4 separate regions of the Homo sapiens genome follow, and all the other regions are linked to region 3. Evidence: fine-mapped expression QTL. A gene starts in region 3. Each other region holds a variant in brackets. All regions are shown on one strand. Distances are from middle to middle.

What was found. PIP is the estimated chance that this variant, and not a neighbour inherited with it, causes the effect. A credible set is the group of variants that fine-mapping cannot tell apart.
Region 1: its variant is the best candidate, but not a certain one, in a credible set for the expression of CYP2E1 in prefrontal cortex (ROSMAP, PIP 0.85).
Region 2: its variant is the best candidate, but not a certain one, in a credible set for the expression of CYP2E1 in whole blood (TOPMed, PIP 0.82).
Region 4: its variant is the best candidate, but not a certain one, in a credible set for the expression of CYP2E1 in Th1/17 cells (Schmiedel 2018, PIP 0.67).

Annotation. Positions count from the first base shown.
Region 1 is chr10:133,619,360-133,624,512 of GRCh38, forward strand. It overlaps FRG2B (FSHD region gene 2 family member B), which reads right to left. Exons shown (of 4, transcript NM_001080998.2): 4 at 4,536-5,153. Among named protein-coding and RNA genes, the nearest start is that of FRG2B, 4.9 kb to the right of the region's middle. The variant A/C (reference allele first, on the strand shown) is at 2,945.
Region 2 is chr10:133,465,387-133,470,539 of GRCh38, forward strand. SCART1 (scavenger receptor family member expressed on T cells 1) reads left to right here. Exons shown (of 12, transcript NM_001396050.1): 9 at 1-179; 10 at 849-995; 11 at 1,812-1,967; 12 at 2,461-4,374. The coding sequence ends at 2,582. Among named protein-coding and RNA genes, the nearest start is that of SCART1, 14 kb to the left of the region's middle. The variant G/A (reference allele first, on the strand shown) is at 2,761.
Region 3 is chr10:133,525,021-133,530,146 of GRCh38, forward strand. It overlaps CYP2E1 (cytochrome P450 family 2 subfamily E member 1), which reads left to right and starts at 2,343. Exons shown (of 9, transcript NM_000773.4): 1 at 2,343-2,552; 2 at 3,461-3,620. The coding sequence starts at 2,376. It overlaps LOC105378575 (a long non-coding RNA gene), which reads right to left and starts at 1,939. Exons shown (of 5, transcript XR_946512.3): 1 at 1,740-1,939; 2 at 1-1,123. RefSeq lists promoters at 1-2,350, 981-2,438, 1,797-2,350, cis regulatory regions at 790-796, 2,022-2,046 and enhancers at 968-1,380, 1,669-1,796.
Region 4 is chr10:133,456,926-133,462,047 of GRCh38, forward strand. SCART1 (scavenger receptor family member expressed on T cells 1) reads left to right here. Exons shown (of 12, transcript NM_001396050.1): 3 at 354-650; 4 at 1,435-1,731; 5 at 2,096-2,401; 6 at 2,562-3,245. Among named protein-coding and RNA genes, the nearest start is that of SCART1, 5.5 kb to the left of the region's middle. The variant C/G (reference allele first, on the strand shown) is at 3,034.

The sequences.
Region 1 (5,153 bases), 94 kb after region 3:
TCGGGTCAATCCAGGTGTTCTAAGCTGTTCTCTCTGGGTGCAGGCCAGGTGTTCACAACCTTCCTCATTGGGGAAAACCCAGTTGTTAAATTTTTTTTAGTGGGTGCAGCTCAGTGCTCACAGCCGTTTGCATCTGACCCGTCTCAGGTGTTCATAGCTGTCTTCATTGGGACCAGCCCCGCTGCTAACAGCTTCCCTCATCTCAGCCTCCCCAGTTGTCCATAGCCATCTTCTTTGTTTCTAGCCAAGTTCTTCACAGCTGTCCTCACTAGGCACAGCCCACTTAATCACAGCCATCCTCCTGAGGGCCAGCCAGTGTGTTCACCCCATGCTCACTGGGCCAGCCAAGATACTATAGCTACCTTTATCCAAGCCAATCCCCGTGTTTATAGCTGTCCTCTTTCGGCCCCCTCAGGTTTTCACAGCTGTCAACATTGGGTCTGGCCCAGTTGTTCACAGCCATTCTCATTTGGGTGATCTAAGGTGTTCATAACAATCAATAAGGCAGCCAGCCCAGGTGTTCTGGCTGGTTGTTCATGGGGGACCTGCCCAGGGCTTAAGAGCTGTTTTCCTTGAGCTCAACCGACCTTTTCGTAGCTGTCTTCATTGTGCACAGCCCAGGTGTTCACAGCTGTCCTCATGGGTCCTGTACAGTTATTCCCTGTGGTTCTCATGTAAGTCAGCTAAGATGTTCTGTCACTCACATTAGAGCCAGGTCCAATGTTCATAGCAGTCCTCATGGAGGTCTGCCGATTTGTTCACATCCATGCTAATTGAGGCCAGCCATTTGGACTGAAAAGCTTTCCCAAAGCTTTGCACTAATTCAAATGTCAATCTCACCCAGAGCCCCCTCTTGCATACCCAGCATAATGTTTGGCCAAATGTCTGTCCTCTGTGGGCCCGTCAGACGGACATGTGAAATTAACCTCAATGCAGGCTCTGAGGTTCCAGGCCCAGGCGGCCGGCATCCTCCAGCTTCCACTGATGTGTCCTGGGGGTTGCTGGGGACATGCTCTGCCTGGCTGCCTTGAGCTGTGACCTTGGTCTTTTCCAGGCTTTGGACTTGAACCTAAGCACAGGCTCTGTGGGTCTTGAGTGCCCAGCCTTCAGACTGGGATGAACTCCATCAGCTCTTTCGGGGTTCCAGCTGGCCAGTTGCAGATCTGGGGACTGCTTCATCTCCAGGGGATGTCATGCCCTGATGCCTTACTGAGCATCCCTAGTAGAATAAAATCAACATTCAGGGGTAGGGGGTCAACCTCAACCATCAACCACATTTACTGCCAAACCTGTAGGTTTTAAAAAATTCATTTCTTAATTTGCATAGAATAAAACACTCTTTTAGCTTATACTGTGGGTTTTGATAAATGCATAATTTGAGAACAGTTTGGCAGCTTCTTAGAGAGTTATATACACTTTCTCTATACAACCTAGCGATCGCACCCCTAGGCATTGGAACCCAAGAGAAATGAAACGTATGTTTTGGGATTCTGGCTTAACAAGACCTTTTCAAGGGGCCCTGGATTATTCAACTGGGAAAGGAATCTGTAAGAGTCATCTAGTCCAGGTGATTCAAAGGGTACCTGTGGAGTCTCTTTCGGGGCCATGAAGTGGGGCTGGGGGAAGCCCGGAGCTCTGGGGATCCTACCGTAACCCACCTGTTAACTTGTGAAAGACGCCTTCTGACCAATGATCACAAGATAAAAAACTTGGAAAGGCTCAAGAGAGTCTACATTACCCAAATAGATGTCAGCTACCCAGGAAGTTTACATGGTCCTAATTAGACCCTCCAAGGGAGGACAGCACAAGAGTGTGGACCCGGCGGTGGGCGTGAAGCTCTCCCCTGCTCCCTGCCCCTCATTACATTTCTTCCTCGCTCACTCCCCATGCAGGCGGCTCCAGGACTTGGCTTGTTGTCTGTCTCCCCTAAGAAGAACACAGCTTCTTGAGGGCAGGGCATTCTCTGTTACTGCAGGCTGTGTCCCCACCACCTGTCCTGTGGCAGCATCGGCATAGCTCAGAGCAGGTGCTGAATAAATGCTCGTGAACTTTGGAAACTTGTCACCATGCAGGATGAGAAAGGGCCATCCTCTCCCAGAGACGTGCATTTTCCTGTGTCACGGGGCCATGCGGTGATACACAGAAGTCTGGCTTCTGCAGGAGCAGGGAATCAACTTAAATGCCCATAATAACTGACTGGATCAAGAAAATGTAGTTCGTATGCTCCATGGAATACTATGCGGCTATAAAAAAGAAGAACACATCTTATTCAGAAACATGGACAGACCTGGAGACCACTATCCTAAGTGAACTAACTCAGGAACAGAAAAGCAAATACTGCACATTGTCACCTGTAAGTGGGAGCTAAATGATGAGAACACATGGACACAAAGAAGGGAACACCAGACACTGGGGCCTACTTGAGGGTGGGGGGTGGGAGGGGGAGAGGAGCAGAAGAGAGAACTATTGGGGGCCGGGCTCAGTACCTGGGTGATGAAATAATCTCCGTAACAAACCCCCATGACATGAGTTTACCTATGTGATAAACCTCTACATGCACCCCTGAACCTAAGATAAAAGTTAAAAAAAAGGTTTTGTGCTAAGAAAAAGCTTATTTTTTCATTCCCCTCCAGCTGTTAACTCACGGGGAGGCCCTCTTTCAGGGAGGCACAGAGGAAAATTAAGGGCTTCCTAGTGACAAGGCAGTTTGTCAGAAAGTCATGAGTGAGCACGGCAGGGCTGTGCAGGAAGTGTGTGTTGGACAGTATGACACACTGGCTTCTCACTCTGCTGCCTCTGATCAATAACACGTTTCCAGAAAGCCTTGTTTTCATGTATACAATGGAGTATAATTACTGCAAAGGTCCACTGAGACTTTTTTTTTTTTTGAGCCGGAGTCTCGCTCTGTCGCCCAGGCTGGAGTGCGGTGGCGCGATCTCGGCTC[A/C]CTGCAAGCTCCGCGTCCCGGGTTCGCGCCATTCTCCTGCCTCAGCCTCCCGAGTAGCTGGGACCACAGGCGCCCGCCACCGCGCCCGGCTAATTTTTTGTATTTTTAGTAGAGACAGGGTTTCACTGTGTTAGCCAGGATGGTCGCGATCTCCTGACCTCGTGATCCGCCCGCCTCGGCCTCCCACGGTGCTGGGATTACAGGCGTGAGCCACCACGCCCGGCCAAACCAACTTTTTTTTAAAAAGGAAGATTTCGTTTAAAAGAAACCACCCTGAAGGGTGGAGTGTGGAACTGAGCTTCCGTGACGGTCTTGAGTTTTCCAGGCCCTCTGTGGGTGTCGCCGTTGCCGTGATAGTCTCACACACGCGGGGGTGTGGATCTCGTTCGTTTTCATGTAGAAAACGAGAGCGAAACTGCAGAGAAAAGAAACGTCGGGTGCATCACGGCCTGACCACGGATTCCTGTTTCCTGCAACAAGGGGAGTCTCCACTGTGGCCGGTCTGGAAACCGGAAAGGAGAGCGAAGTCACGATGCTGCTTTTCCACGCTTCGCTGGAGGTTTCTGTGTCCCCGCAGAGCTCGGGAAACAGCCAACGTGGTCGCGCTTTCGGGGGCGGGAGACACGCGAGCAACAGGCCCCTTGCAGAGGGCGAAGGAGCGTGGAACCCGGAATCACGGTTCACTCGGCCCGAGTGTGACTCCCGTGTGGACGGGCCTGTCCGCCTCGCGCTCTGTTGCTCAACGCGGGGCCGTGTCGTCTGTGAACCACGTGGATGGAAAACGGACAATCACCCGCGTCTCGGCTCATTGCTCTCATTCCTTGGGAGGCGGAATTCGTCCGAATTGCTCCGGGATGAAGTGACCCGGGCCGGCGATCCGGAGGGCTGGTGAGCTGGTGGGCGCCCCGCAAGCAGACGCGGCTGTGGGCCGAGCTCTCGGCCTGCACCGGGCACCCCACGTTTTCCCGGAGTGCGAGGTCCCGCTGGCCCTGGAGGCGGAAGACCGCTTTCCTCTCTGCTTTCCTCTCTGCTTTCCTCTCTGTCTCTTGCTCCCTTTCTCCCTCTGTCTTTCCCTCCCTCCCTCCCTCCCTCCCCGCTCCCCACTTTCTCCTTTCCAATGTCCCTCTATCCATCCGTCCTTTTCTCGCTCCATTCCTCCCTTTCTCTCTGTCTCTGTTCCTCTCCCCATCTCTATTTTTCAACATTATATGATCCCATTGTGTGTATCTGTGTGTTAACATTTTTTTAGCAATAAAATTCACTTTCATTATGTACATTGTTATTTAGACACATTATTTATGTATGTGCATTTGTTTAATAGACATGATTTATTTCAGCGTTATTCTACAGCAGAGTGTAAGCATAACTCATAAGCAGGGTCAACCCAAAAATTGTGTGACTCGCGTTACTGTGATTCTTTTATACTGCAGTGCTCGAGAATAAAATCTCTGTATCTCCAATTCATATCTGTATATTACCATTGAATTGGCCCCATTTCCTGTAGTGATAGAACACTATTCCCGCACTATGACAAGAGCTGTGGGCTGTGGGGAGGTCAGGGATAGGATGACACGGAAGTGACAATAAGACATTCTCTTTTTCACATTTTTATTAAATACAAATTCCATATGAAAGAAATTTAAAATTCCAAACAACATTGTTTATTTCATTACATAAAATGAAAATTATAAAGCAACCAAACAATTAATACACTTAGATAATGAAATAGTGTATGATCTCAGTACAAAATACAAGTAGAATATACGTCAAATATAACAAAATACACTGTATTGTAGTACGTGATGAAATCTCCATATCCTGCAATATAGTACAATCAATTGAAATGTATAAAATATAATAAAATATAAATTTAGGATGTTTAAAATGAAATGAAACATGAGGCAGGTCAATAAATAAGTACAATCATTTACCATTTACTATATCTTGACTTAAATTTTATGTAGAAATATTAAAAGTAAACAGCTTGCATAGTAATTTTACTATAATTATATCAAACAAAATATATAGACATTTTCCCACAGGGAGTGCTATTAATGGTTTGTGGATATTAGTACTCCATGGGTTCAGGCTGGAAGAGTGAGAGCCTACAACCTTTTCTGGATTAAAAGAGAAGCAATTTCTTGGTAAGGCGGCTCATGCCTGTAATCCCAGCACGTTGGGAGGCGGAGGCTGGCAGATCACCTGAGTT
Region 2 (5,153 bases), 60 kb before region 3:
GGGCTGTGGTCGGGCCGTCGCCGCCCTGGGGGCCGCCGCCTTTGGCCCTGGCTCCGGGCCCGTGTGGCTGGACGAGGTGGGGTGCCGGGGCAGCGAGGCGTCCCTGTGGGGCTGCCCTGCGGAGCGGTGGGGACGCGGAGACCGCGCGCACGAGGAGGACGCGGGCGTGCGCTGCTGGGGTGAGTGGGGGGCGGTGGGAAGTCGGTCATGGGGCCGGCAGAGGGCGCTGGGATGGAGTCAGTCTTGAGTGTCACTTCGGTGGGCAGGAGAGCTCGCCCAGGTGTTAGTGGGTTGGTTTCCACCCTGGGATTTTTCTGGGATAGGCTGATTTGCTGTGGAGGCCTGTTTGGGACATGCACTCCCTGGGGTTTCCCCCTAATCTTTTTTGGGAATTCCCTTTTGTTTATTCCAATCCTTGTTCATTTCGGGTATGTGTCACCTGGGTGTTGGCAGGTTCAGTTGTTCCCTGCACCTCATTCTCTTTGCAGAAAACAAACAGTTAACCACAGTGATGACCTTAGCAAAAGCAGCAGCAGTGGTAACTTTCCCTGAGCCACTCCCATTCTCTGTGCTCTGGTCACCTCTTGTGACTTGCCCTGGCATCTGCCTGGGGGCCATGTTTTACCAAGGAAGGGGGCTGTCCCTTGAAAGCAGACACCCCCAGTGGACACTAGCCATTTTGGGGTGCTCTGCACAGCTGAAACCAGCAGATGCCCCCCCAGCACTTCCGACTCGCAGGTCCTCCATGAGGGAGAGGGTGTGGCTGGGCCCTTGGAGCCACCCTGTCCTGCTGAGGGTGTGCAGGTCCCCCCCACCACCCAGCTGGCTCAAGACCTCTCCTTTCTCAGAGCCTGGCCCAGGCCCCCCACTGCCTGCAGCTCCCTTCCGGACATTCTGGGTGGTCAGTGTCGTCCTGGGATCCCTTCTTGGTCTTCTCCTTCTGGGCCTCATGGCTTTTCTGATTCTGCCTCGAGTCACACAAGCCATGCAGAGGGGTAAGCGTGAGCCCACCCTGATCCCATCAACTGGTGTGCAGGAGCAAGAGCAGCTCACAGCTCCAGCCTGGTGTTGGGGTCTGGGCAGGCGGGGTGCCCCACAGCAGTCAGGCCTATGCAGACCTACCCCCAAAGTCCAAGGAACTGAGAAGCTGAAGAAAGAGGCAGACAAATCCAGTTCCTTAGAAAGAAACACTTAAAAGGGACTTATGAAGACAAGCCATGTCCATGCCTTGGATGGCCTCTAGCTGAGACGGTGGATGCCCATATTATCATCCCTCACAACTAGAACTTATATACCTCAGGGGAAGGGGACATGTAGGACAATTGCTTAAGGGCAGGATTTACAGTGAATGCATGCTCTTATGCAAGGAACAGTAGATAAAATAGAAATCTTAGAGGCCTTCCCGGAACTGGAGTTGGTCAGAAGTCAACACGGTGGATCAGCATTCAGGGCAGAGTTGCTTCAGCCTGCAGGCTGATCTCACTTAGGGCTCATTTTATTGGCCAGAGAGAGTGGCAGACATCTGCATCAGCCTCCAGCCCTCAAGACTGAGCTCAACCCTAGAAGGTTCCCCCAGGCAGCACATTGGGGCCCACTGGGAAGCATCATGTGGTTTGCTGGCAAGGGACGGTGGCCAGGGATGGGAGGGCACTGGGAGTCTGGCTATGTTGCCGTGGTCCCTCCATCCCAGCCCACAGCATCCTGCCTCTTTGCTGCCTGGCTGGGGTTCCTGCCTGGAGTTGCTGTCCTCCCTTGCCTGTGGCCACATCCACACTGAGGGCCTGTGTGTGACCATGCTCACCTTGCCTCAGGTCTGGGAAGATCCGAGGTATCTCCTGGAGAAGCCATCTATGATGTCATTGGGGAAATGCCGCCAGCAGGACTGTACGAGGAAATCATGGAGGCCGAGGCTGTGCTCCAAGATGAGGAGGACGGAAGTGTGGTGAAGGTGGACACAGAAGCCGCAGGTGGGTTTGTGCTCCAGCTCAGGGGTGAGCTCTGGGGTGGGCTACGGATGCTGACCACAAGATGCAGTGGAAAGGGACTCTGACCACAGGAGCCTGGCTTCAGAAGGCTGCTGACCACAGGGCTCATGGATGCAAAGGGACTCGTGGGCAGGGGAGAGCAGGGCCACACCCATGAGGGCAGAGTCAGTGGCTGGAGTCCCCATCGGAGAGGCCTGCCCTGTGGTGGGAGAAGAGGGCTGGTCGGGTGTGCTGGGAGCCGCGGGTCTGGCAGGGGCATATGCTGCAGCTCACTCAGCCTCAGTTTCATCACCTGTGGGAGCTGTGCTGCTGTCACAGGCTGCTTGGGGTGCTTCAATGTCAGGATGCCTTGAACATTGCCAGGTGCTTTCTGGTTGACATGTTTATGCGTTCCTGTCTTACGGGCTTTGCCAAATGTGCTCTGGGGACAACTTGCACGTGTGCTGATTTGGTCACGCGGTGTCTCTTGCGCCAGTTTCAGGGGAGGTGTCTAACCTCCTGGAGGGACAGTCTATACGTGCGGAGGGAGGACACAGCAGACCTGTTTCTCAGGGATATGACGAGGCTGCGTTTCCTCTGGAGGAGATGACGTTGTAAAGCAACCTGAGGATGAGATACACCAGCTGGCTGTCGAAATCACAGCTCTTCATTTTCTTGTACAATTGTAGTGGATTTCGTGAGAACACCTTGGATGCCTTTCTCTTGCAATGTCCTCCATGTCCATGTAAAATCCAGTCCTTCCAGGCCCTGCCTGGCTCTAAACCTCATCCCCTTC[G/A]AGGGCCATCTGCTGTGGACAGTTGTGCTGTGTAACCTTCAGATTTCCCACACATTACAGCAAATGCAAATACACATAGAAATCAGTGGTTCCATTTGTGGTTTAGAGACACATGGTGCCATCTTCATCTTCCGCTCCACAGCTCGCTTCTGGCACCCAGCAGTGGGTTGCAGAGCTCCCCATGCCAGAACCTTCCTCTTTTTTCTTAAAAACTCTTCTTAATTGAATCCAAAGTATCTTTTAAATGTTCTACTTGTGTAATCATGTCATCTGTGAATATTCAGATTTATCTTCTCCTTCCAATCCGTGTACATTTAATCTCTTTTTCTGTGCCTTATTTCGGGGGCTGGGACCCTTCAGTCCAGTGTTGAAGAGAGGCAGCCAGTGGAGGTCTTGTCTCATTCAAGGACTCAGAGCAAATGTGTTCCACATTTAATTTCACTATGAAATATAATATTTGATGTTCAGTTTTGTAGATGCTATTTATCAGATCAAGGAAAGCCCAGTCTATACCTAATTTGTTAAGGGTTTTGCTTTTTATCATAAGTGTTGACTTTTATCAAATTCTTTTTTGTATCTATTAAGATGATAGATGATTGATTTTCATATGTTAAATTAACCATGGGTTAAACAAACTTACCTTTATCATGATATATTATTCTTTTTGTATTTCACAGGAATTAGTTTGGTAATATGTTGGGTCAATGTTTAAAAAAGAAAATGATGTGTAATTTTTTTCTTTTATTGTAGTATTTCTGTTTAATTTTTGGTATGAGGATTATTCAGGTCTCATAAGAGTTAGGAGTATATTCTCTTTTAAAAAATATTTGCTAATTTACACTCCCACCAACAGTGTAAAAGTGTTCTTATTTCTCCACATCCTCTCCAGCATCTGTTGTTTCCTGACTTTTTAATAATCGCCATTCTAACTGGCATGAGATGATATCTCATTGTGGTTTTGATTTGCATTTCTCTAATGACCAGTGATGATGAACTTTTTTTCATATGTTTGTTGGCTGCATAAATGTCTTCTTTTGAGAAGTGTCTGTTCATATCCTTCACCCACTTTTTGATGGGGTTGTTTGCTTTTACCTTGTAAATTTGTTTAAGTTCCTTGTAGATTCTGGACATTAGCCCTTTGTCAGATGGATAGATTGCAAAAATTTTCTCCCATCCCGTAGGTTGCCTGTTCACTCTGATGACCTATCAATGATAGACTGGATAAAGAAAATGTGGCACATATACACCATGGAATATTATGCAGCCAGAAAAAAGGATGAATTCATGTCCTTTGCAGGGACGTGGATGAAGCTGGAAAACATCATTCTCAGCAAACTAACACTGGAACAGAAAACCAAACACTGCATGTTCTCACTCATAAGTGGGAGTTGAACAATGAGAACACATGGACACGGGGAGGGGAACATCACACACTGGGGCCTGTCAGGGGGTGGGGGGCTAGGGAAGGGATAGCATGAGGAGAAACACCTAAGGTAGATGACGGGTTGATGGGTGCAGCAAACCACCACGACACGTGTATACCTATGTAACAAACCTGCACATTCTGCACAGGTACCCCAGAACTTAAAGAATAATTTAAAAAAATTTGCAAGAGTTTATGTAGCATTGGTTTTATTTCTTCTTAAATGTTGGAAGAACTCACTAGTAAAGCTCTCTAGGCTTGGAGTTTCCTCTTTAGTGAGGTTTTTTTTTTCCAGATTTAATTTTTTAAAATAAATAGTTGAAGTATTCAGATTCTCTATTTCCTATTAGATCTGCTTTGTTCAGTCCTTTTAAAAAATGAATTGGTACATTTAATCTAAATTTTCAAGTTTTTCCATATAAATTTGTTAATAGTATCTTTCTACTAGCCTTAATGTCTACAAAATCTGTAGTCATGTGCATTTTTCAATCCTGATAGTGGCAATTTGTGTCTTCTCTCCTTTTTTTTTTTTTTTTTCGAGACCAAGGTCTCACTGTGTTGCCCACACCAGACTCAAACTCCTGGGCTCTAGCGATCCTCCCTCACAGCCCCCCGCACAGCTGGGACTCTGGGCACTCTGCTGTTCTTGACCGGTGCTGCTGGCGGCTTCATCTCATTAGTCTTTCCAAGGCACGTGGAGCTTGTGCCTTTGGTTTTCTTGATTTTTCTTGGTGAACATCTGCCTTCTAATTCGTTTATTTCTGTTCTCATCTTTGTGATTTCCTTCTGCTTATTCTAGCTTTTTTATATGGACATTCAGATTGTTGATATTCAGCATTTTTTCTTTTTTAATGCATATATTTTAGGTTATAACTTTCCCTTTTAGCATGGCTTTGGCTGCATTCCAAGAGTTTTGATATGTTGTGATTTTGTTTTAATAGGTTTATGGGGGTATAATTAGCATATAATA
Region 3 (5,126 bases):
TAAACACTGTTAGTTATCTAGAGAAAGAAGAAAATTGTCCCAATACAGTCACCTCTTTGCCACACCCAGCCAACAGCAGACGTGATGGAAGCCTGAAGAACACCCTGCCACGGGCACAGGCAGAGGCACAGGCACCCTGTCGTCCTGATTATTTCACCTTGTCACGGGCAGAGGCACAGGCACCCTGTCGTCCTGATTATTTCACCTTGTCACGGACAGAGGCACAGGCACCCTGTCGTCCTGATTATTTCACCTTGTCACAGGCACAGGCACCCTGTCGTCCTGATTATTTCACCTTGTCACAGGCACAGGCACTCTGTCGTCCTGATTATTTCACCTTGTCACGGGCAGAGGCACAGGCACTCTGTCATCCTGATTATTTCACCTTGTCCTAGAGTGTCCTGCCAATGGGACAGATGCAAAACAAATAAAAGCCCCGGCTTCTGAAAAGAAGCACACAGAAATGTCATTATTTTCAAACGAGGTGTTCCCGTATATAAAATTTGATGTTGGTTGGGCATCTAACAGTATTATGGCCAGAGGACTCAGACCACAGCTGCATCCCTGTGAGGCACAGACTCTCCAGGGCACGCGGGTCCCGCCTGGGATGTGCACACTCAGGTGAGCTGCACAGACAAGGTGTCCTCAGCCCAGGGGAGCCAGAGGCCTGCTCTGCCTCTCCACCCTGATGCTTCCTGTTCTCACCCCACCAAAGCCAAGGCTTCAATTTCAGTCTGTGGGGAGCTGACTCTGCTGCTCTCAAGCACTAGAAGAAGGAACCAGTAATCGAGGAAACTTGTGGACCCCAATGGGTGTCTGTCCCGGCCAGGCCTGGCTGGGCCCACACAGGACAACAGGGTTCAGGGGTCTGGACAGCTGTTTCTGCCCAGGGAATTGTCCCTGCCACCTCACACTGGCCACTGGAAAGGAAAGAGAGGAGGAGGCGGCAGGCTAACCCACCCGTGAGCCAGTCGAGTCTACATTGTCAGTTCTCACCTCGAGGGGTGCCAAAAACCAGAGGGAAGCAAAGGCCCCTGAAGCCTCTGCCAGAGGCCAACGCCCCTTCTTGGTTCAGGAGAGGTGCAGTGTTAGGTGCAGCACAACCAATGACTTGCTTATGTGGCTAATAAATTGTCAAGAGAAAAACTGGGTTAGAATGCAATATATAGTATGTAGTCTCATTTTTGTATAAATACAAGTATAGAATGGCATAACTCAAAATCCACAAGTGATTTGGCTGGATTGTAAATGACTTTTATTTTCTTCATTTCTCATCATATTTTCTATTATACATAAAGATTCATTGTTAATATAAAAGTACAAAATTGCAACCTATGAATTAAGAACTTCTATATATTGCCAGTTAGAAGACAGAATGAAAAACATTCTCTTCATTCTAACCACACACACAAAAAAGCTCCACAAAATACCTATGGACTACCTTCATAGAAGGTGGAAGAGGGTCTGTATGAAGAAAATAATTAATACATGAAAGAAGAAGCTAGTCAATGTGGAGCTCTATTGTGTCCCGGGATCAACAAAGACAAGATATCTTTAAAATCGTCTTCTAAATTTACCCTAATGTAAAACAAATCCAATAAAACTCTAATGTAATTTTTTAAGAATTTAAATTTGGAATAATTCCAAAGAACAATTTTTCTTAATTTTCTACAGCCAGAATATATACCTTTAAAAAAAATGAAAACAGAGATTAACTTTCTCAGAATTGGTTGACTCACTCTTTCCTTTTATTTTTCTTCCATGGAATTTTCCAGTTAACTTGAGAAAGTGGAATCGAATTCCGATGTTGAATTTTCCTTCTGGCCCCATTCATGTGGCAGGTGGTGATTCAGGTACTACTGGGGGCTGCTCAGACAAACCTCCTCATCAGACATCAAGAGGCTGTTGCACCAGGAGGGCCGGTACCGTGTCTAGAGGTGGTCGGCATGGGGTTGGAGTTGTATTACATAAACCCTACTCCAAACAAATGCATGGGGATGTGGCTGGAGTTCCCCGTTGTCTAACCAGTGCCAAAGGGCAGGACGGTACCTCACCCCACGTTCTTAACTATGGGTTGGCAACATGTTCCTGGATGTGTTTGCTGGCACAGTGACAGGTGCTAGCAACCAGGGTGTTGACACAGTCCAACTCCATCCTCACCAGGTCACTGGCTGGAACCCCTGGGGGCCACCATTGCGGGAATCAGCCTTTGAAACGATGGCCAACAGCAGCTAATAATAAACCAGTAATTTGGGATAGACGAGTAGCAAGAGGGCATTGGTTGGTGGGTCACCCTCCTTCTCAGAACACATTATAAAAACCTTCCGTTTCCACAGGATTGTCTCCCGGGCTGGCAGCAGGGCCCCAGCGGCACCATGTCTGCCCTCGGAGTCACCGTGGCCCTGCTGGTGTGGGCGGCCTTCCTCCTGCTGGTGTCCATGTGGAGGCAGGTGCACAGCAGCTGGAATCTGCCCCCAGGCCCTTTCCCGCTTCCCATCATCGGGAACCTCTTCCAGTTGGAATTGAAGAATATTCCCAAGTCCTTCACCCGGGTAAGAGAAATAGTGTTGATTTTAGGGAGAATAACTCAGCAATTGGATCTGGTATGTGTGTATTCAACTCATTTGCAGACAAATTGTGGTTGTTCAATACCAGCCTGTTGTGAATTACCTGAATTGATAGCATCCTGGAGCGACACTCAAAATGTGTCGCCTGTGGTGCAGCTGGAGCCCGGAGCCTGCGTGCCAGGCCCCGGAGGCCCCCGCCGGTGCCTTGTCCTGGGGCTGATGATGGGGAGGCCGGCGAGGCCGGGCTGCTGCGACGCCAGGATAACCGGGCTGGCGGCCAGATGCGCACTCGCTGGGCGTCCGCCTGTGTTTGCCAAAGCACGAGTTGAAACGTGAAGTGTTGGGCCAGCCCGTGTGGCACCAATACCTGCCGCCTACGACTGTTGTGAACACTGAATGGGCCAACAAACCTAAACGTTAAATGAACTGATAACGCCGTCAGCACGGAGCAGGCGCTGGGTGTTTGCGCTCTTGCGCGTGCGCTCTGTGGGGCGCAGGCTGACGGCGGGCGGGGGTCGCCTGCTCCAGCTCGGGCTCCCGCGCCAGAACCGGGTCCAGAACCTTGATTCCGGAAGCGGGCAACGGGGTGGTTGGTGGGCGCGCCTGAGGGAAGGGACGTGAGGAGCCGGAGTCCGCGGAGTTGCCGCGGAGTTGTCCGCGGAGTCCAGGCGGGTGGGGAGCAGAGCAGCTGGAACCCCCCGAGCGCCCTGCAGACGCAGCAGCCTCTTGAGGGGAGGGTCTCCCCCACCTCGGGCTGGACAAAGACAGCTTTTCCCCACGTCCCTCTGGGTTCTCTAGAGCAACAGCAATACCCGCCCGGCAGGGGTGTGGCTTAGAGCCCCGCACCTCCTCGCCGCGCGGCGGGCCTGACTTCTAGCCACGGGTCTCCGCAGTTGGCCCAGCGCTTCGGGCCGGTGTTCACGCTGTACGTGGGCTCGCAGCGCATGGTGGTGATGCACGGCTACAAGGCGGTGAAGGAAGCGCTGCTGGACTACAAGGACGAGTTCTCGGGCAGAGGCGACCTCCCCGCGTTCCATGCGCACAGGGACAGGGGTGAGTCCGCGTCCCTGGCACGGAGCGGGGGGTGCATAACACGCCCCGGGACAGTTACGGGCGCTAGCCACGTCGGCGATGGCCAAATAATAAACTAACAGTAATATTATAGTAACAGCATCCGAAGGATGAGATCAGGATTAGGGCGATGGCCCCCGCGCGTTGCCTGCGGAGCGAGGCGCACTGAGTCGCCCAGGAATCCGGCCTCTCGGCGACTGTGCGGGAGAGTTTATGGGGATGGGCGGGGCTGCTTCTGAGCAGGAGTCGCCGCCCCCACCCCCACCGTTCCGCCTCTGGGCCCGCAGGCTCCTCCCGGGAGCGCTTTCCCCTCCTGTTCAACCGCCGGGGTACAGGTGGCTTCGTCCACCGAGGTCCCCTCACCCACGCTGAGGCGTCGGAAGCTGCGGACACTGCTCGCTTCAGGGCTTTGCTCAGCTGCAGCTGGTGACCTCCAGAGAGGGAGTCTCTGATGTCCCGCTGGGGTGGATGTCCTGAGACCGGGAAGGGGGAAGAGACCCACTGAAATCCTATCTCCCAGCCTCACCTCTGCTGTCTCCTCCACGCTTCCTGTCTCCAGAGCCCCGAGTTCAGCATAAGCAGAAAGCGGCCTGTTCCCTCTCTAGGGAGAGGAGGGTTGCGGTCTGGAGGTCTGGCTCGTCTTTATCTGCGCATTCTCCCAGCCTCCTGGCTTCAGACCTCAGCGAGGCGGCGGCTGCCGGCCGGCTCTCCTCTTCCTGCCTGCAGACCTGGCCTGCTGCTTCTTTCTCCTTCCTCCCTCCCTGCCTGCCCTGCGGTTTCAAAGTAGATTAGAAATAACAGTGTCCCACATGGAAGCCTCTACTTCTTCCTGGGTCAACTTTGATGACGAGGCTCCAGAAAACCTTTGCAATGCTGTGTGGAATTTTTAAATCGGTGAGCTCGTGCTCTTGCCCTATTTATTTGTCCAGCGTACATTTCTGAACATTGTGAACGTCGAATGGGCCAACAAATCTAAAAATTAAATGAGCTGATAAAGAACGCCGTCAGCACAGAGCAGACGCTGGGTGTTCGCGCTCTTGAGCGTGCGCTCTGCGGGGCGCGGGCTGGTGGCGGGCGGGGGTCGCCGGCTCCAGCTCAGGTTCCCGCGCCAGGACCGCGTCCAGAACCTTGTCTCCGGAAGCGGGCAACGGGGTGGTTGTATCACAATTAGTGGCATTTGGTTTTCCTTCTTCTGCATTGTGGGTTTTACTTCTCTGGGGTTGCCAAAAACAAAATTAACCATCTCAGTCCTTGTCGTTAACGCAGGAGAAGCATTACTGGAGGAGGCTCTGGGGTTCTGTGGTTGAGGAGCTCAGTTCTGGTTCCGGGGAGCCCTTATCTGCCACCCACGGGTCCAAGGCACAGTCGGAGGCAGCAGGGAGGGGAGCGGAATTCACATCAACACAGATGGGGCTCAAGGGGACTTTGCTGCCTCTGCCTGGAGGGTCTAAAGTTTCATTTTCATATGACCCGCAGGGCGCAGACTGG
Region 4 (5,122 bases), 68 kb before region 3:
TTGAGGTCTGGCTCGAGGGTCCTCAGCTGTCCCTCACATTTTATGTGGCTGTGAGGACCCCCTCATAGCGTCCTGCCTCTGAGGCTGAACCACCTGGCCAGGACCTCCTACCATTTTGGGGCCCAGTGTGAACGGATCCTGCGGGGAACCTTGTTTCAGGAGACCAGCAGCAGAGCATGAAGCTGGGCACAGGGGTCTCTCTGAGCCCAGGGCCCTGTGTGACTGCCCGGTCACCTGCCCCTGAAGCTGGCCCTGGCTCAGCCCATCACTGTCCTCCCTGAAAAAGGAGCTGCCGAGTGACCATGCGGCCAGCTGGGTCCATACCTTAAGGAGGACCGGCCTGTGCTCCACAGACGGCACTTTCCGGGAGCTCCGGCTGGTGAAGGGCCGCAGTCCCTGCGCGGGACTCCCCGAGATCAGAAACGTGAATGGGGTGGACCGCCTCTGTGTCCTGCATGTGGAGGAGGCCATGGTGTTCTGCCGGGAGCTGGGGTGCGGCCCTGTGCTCCAGGCCCCCCGCCGGGACGTGGGCGTCGTCAGGAAGTACCTGGCCTGCAGGGGTACCGAGCCCACCATCCGCAGCTGCAGACTGGACAACAACTTCCGCAGCGGCTGCGACCTGCGGCTGGACGCAGAGGTGGTCTGCTCAGGTGAGGCTGCCACCTGATGTTCCCAGTGACCCTTGGGATGATGCTGGGCCCGGACCTGGGGAGGGCAGGGAGAAGGGGGGTGGGCGTTCCCACGGATGGGCCCCCCTGTCCTGCATGAGACATTGGGCGCAGAGGTGGGAAAGGGCCTCAGCTCTCACGCTGGTTCTCAGCAGAGTGGAGCTGAGTTTCTGGTGGCCCCACAGAGGTGTCCTGGCTCAGAACCCGCAGGCCATCTAGGGGTCCTGGCTGCCGCTGCAAGTCTGAGCTGCCTCAGCTGTGATCTCTGCATGTCTAACATGGATCGGGGTTGGGTAGAGGTCACTTCTTCCCAGCCCTGCCTCAACTGTGTGTGAGCTGCACTGGCCTCACAGCTCCTGGCCTTGTTGTGCATATGAGGAGCAGCTGAAATGAGGTGGATAGTCTGCCTGCTGCGGTACCCCAGAGAGGGTGGTGCTCAGTGGACCAAGGGGTGCCCTGACCTCGCCTCTGGGATTGCAGAGGGTGTTGCTGTCATGGCCTCGGACAGGCAGAGGCTGTGAAATACGTGAGCACCTGCAGCAGGTGACCCTGACCCTGACCTTGGTGATGCGGCCAAGGACGTCTGCTCTGCTCTGGGTGCCGGGTGGAAGGGCCTGTGGCTGCAAGTTCCTGCCTGTGCTTGGTAGACCCTCTGCCTAGATGCAGGTGATGGCTCCTGGCTGAAGCCTTCCGCAGTCTGAGGCTCAGGGCCAGGCTGTTGACCTGAGAACACCTGTCTCCTGCCTGAGAGGACGTCTGCCCCCAGGACACACCGAGGCCCGACTGGTGGGCGGCGAGCACCCCTGCGCCGGGCGCCTGGAGGTGACCTGGGGCACCGTCTGTGATGCGGCCCTGGACCTGGCCACGGCCCACGTGGTGTGCCGGGAGCTGCAGTGTGGGGCGGTCGTGTCCACGCCCGAGGGCGCCCGCTTCGGCCGGGGCTCGGGGCCGGTGTGGACGGAGGCCTTCCGCTGTGCGGGCAACGAGTCGCTGCTGTTCCACTGCCCACGGGGGCGTGGGAGCCAGTGTGGGCATGGTCACGACGCGGGGCTCAGGTGCTCAGGTGAAGTCCTGTGTGTGGGCTCTGAAGGCTCAGCCCTGCCTTGTTCTCTGTCAAATCCCTTCGTGCCCTAAAGGTGCCTCTGGCCAGTAGGTGTGGGTGCTTTTGATGTTTGCTTCTGTTGGTTGAAAGAAGCGCAGGGAAGAGACTGGGTGTAGAGTGATGTACCCCAAGGCTGCAGCTAAGATCAAATTCTTCTGGAGAGCTGTGTGAGCTGGATGCTGATGCAGAGGAGGGTGGGGGAGCTGGTGAGACCAAGGCTGGGCTCTGTGCCCATCCCACTGGGTGTGAAGGAAGGAAATGACCACAGACAGCCATGTTCTGGGTCGGCCGTCTGCAAGCCAGGCTGACTCCTCCTCTCCCCCAGAGTTCAGGATGGTCAACGGCAGCAGCAGCTGTGAGGGCCGCGTGGAGTTCCAGGTGCAGGGGTCCTGGGCACCCCTCTGTGCCACCCACTGGGACATAGCAGATGCCACCGTCCTCTGCCACCAGCTCAACTGTGGCAACGCGGTGGCCGCACCTGGAGGAGGCCATTTTGGGGACGGGGACGCTGCCATCTGGCCTGATGCCTTTCACTGTGAGGGGACAGAGTCCTACTTGTGGAATTGCCCAGTAAGCACCCTGGGGGCCCCGGCCTGTGCCCCGGGAAACACAGCCTCCGCGGTCTGCTCAGGTGGGTGCAGCCAGGACGGTGGACCAGGAGGGTGAGTGAGAGGCATGGACAGAGGAGTGCAAGGAAGGACAGAGGGGGCGGAGAGGTACGGGCCCTGCTGGGGGGTGGTCCTGGGTCCCTCCCGCTGACATCTTGGGCCCCTGTGCGTCCCCATCCCCAGGTCTGGCCCACGCCCTGCGACTGAGGGAAGGACAGAGCCGCTGTGACGGCCGCGTGGAGGTCTCCCTGGATGGCGTGTGGGGCCGCGTCCTGGACGATGCCTGGGACCTGCGCGGCGCGGGCGTGGTGTGCCGGCAACTCGGGTGCAGAGGGGCCCAGCAAGCCTATGACGCACCTGCCCCCAGCCGCGGATCCGTCCAGGTGGCGCTGAGCCGCGTGCGCTGTCTGGGCACCGAAACCCGCCTGACTCAGTGCAACGTGTCCGCGACCCTGCAGGAGCCCGCGGGGACCTCGCGGGACGCCGGCGTGGTGTGCTCCGGTGAGGTCGGAACCGCGTCCCCCATGGCCCGTCGCCACGGGATCCCGGGCGCCCTGACTCTGTCTCTCCACAGGGAGCCTCAGGGTGCGGCTGGCCGCGGGGCCGGGGCGCTGCACGGGGGCGCGTGGGGCACCGTGTGTGACGATGCCTGGGA[C/G]CTGCGGGACGCGCACGTGGTCTGCAGGCAGCTGGGCTGTGGCCGCGCCCTGAGCGCCCTGGGGGCCGCACACTTCGGAGCCGGGGCAGGGCGCATCTGGCTGGACGAGCTGGGCTGCCAGGGCCACGAGTCTGCGCTGTGGCAGTGCCCGTCGGCGGGCTGGGGGCGGCACGACTGGAGGCACAAGGAGGACGCCGGCGTCTTCTGCTCAGGTGAGCGGCCGTTGGGTATGGAATGATCATGCTGTTTTATTACGTACAGTCATGCGCACTTGCTTTCCAGAACAGCATCAAACTATCGGGAGCTGTTCTCTTCCCTGAATGCAGAACTTCCACAGTGGATTGGGTGAGGTTCCTGTTGGTATAGTAAGTGCTACCGGACAAAGTACTTTGGTTCCGTGCACCTGGGGAGCTGGTCAGCTTCCTGTCGCAGGTTGGCCCTGGGGCAGCCCCACCTGGGCTCATTTTCCGCCGTAACCAGCTCAAGTGCGCTTGAAGTTTCCATCCGAAATTCATATATATATATATATATTTATATATTTTAAAAAATATTTTATATTTATTTAAATATTTATTTATTTATTTATTTATTTATTTTGAGACGGTCTCACTGTGTTGCCCAGGCTGGAGTGCAGTGGCCCCATCACCGGTCACCGCAGTCTTGACCTCCTGTAGTCCAGGGATCCTTCAGCCTCAGCCTCCCAAGCTGCTGGGACTACAGAAGTGAGGCACTGCCGCTGGCTTCAGATTCTTAATTTTGATCCATATTTTGGTGTACTGGAGAACTTTTTGCAGACTTTTTTTTTTTTGACAAGATCTTGGTCAGGCTAGAGTGCAATGGTGCAATCTTGACTCAGTGCAACCTCTGCTTCCTGGGCTCAAACCATCCTCCTGCCTCAGCCTCCCAAGTAGCTGGGACTACGGGCATGTGCCACCATGTCTGGCTAACGTTTATTTTTGTAGAGATGGAGTTTCACCATGTTGCCCAGGCCGGTCTCAAACTCCTGGACTCAAGCGATCCACCTGCCTCAGCCTCCCAAAGTGTTGGGATTACAGGTGTGAGCCACCGCACCTGACCATTTTGCAGACTATTTTTGAGATGGTGGATGAGCTTTATTATTATTATTATTATTATTCACACATACCTGAGCGTCTTTGTGTTCTGATCTTGTCCAGGTGTGGTCATTCTTGGGTGATGGAATTTTGTCATTTTGGGGGATGGGTTCTCTGGAGAAGCCTGTGAGTGGGTCACGGGCTGCCCACCTGACCTGCGGCCTCCTGAGCGGGTCACGGGCTGCCCATCTGACCTGCGGTCTCCTGAGAGGGTCACGGGCTGCCCATCTGACCTGTGGTCTCCCAGGGTATTTTCAGGCAACCCTGGGGGAGAGGCTGGATGCTGGCAGAGTCTCTGGCAGCTTATCCAAGTGTGGGCTCTTCTCATTGATTTTGGTTTATATTTTACTTTAGGAACGCTTTCTTCAGCGATATCTTGGATTATTACGTTTATTTCAATTACTGTGTTCTTTGTATGCAATGCTGGAGTCTCGTGAGTTTGAGCCTTCCCTATGCTTCTGAAATTAATTTTGGCATGACTCTTTCCCCAGGCATTCTTGGGGTGTTTCTCCAGGTGGCACCCACGTCACAATCTGTGTTTCTGTCGATTCTGCTCTTCAGTCCTTTGGTGTATTATTTCGCCCTCCTCACCTCGTCCATCATCTCATTTTTGTGTCTTTATTCTCGGCAGCTTGTTTTCTCCTAATGACATGATGCTCTGCTCTCATAAAAGGTCCATCTTTTTCTGGCATCTCAGTGAGAATGACAGGTCATTTTCTAGAACATTCTGCTGGTTTCTGTGGAAAGCGGCGGATGTTAGCCCTTCCTCTGCATCTTCCATGTTGTCCTTGCTCTCTGGTTTGCAGCATTTTCCTCCGGTGGCTGCTTTATTTGTTTTTCTGTGAAGCTTCATTCTGGGGACCCCATCTGAGCTGGCATCTACAGGCACCCGGCTGTCAGACCATCTGCTGGAGCCAGCATGTTGGGCACAGCCAGTTCAATTCCTGGGGCTGCCTCTTTTTCACCTGGGTCTCAGC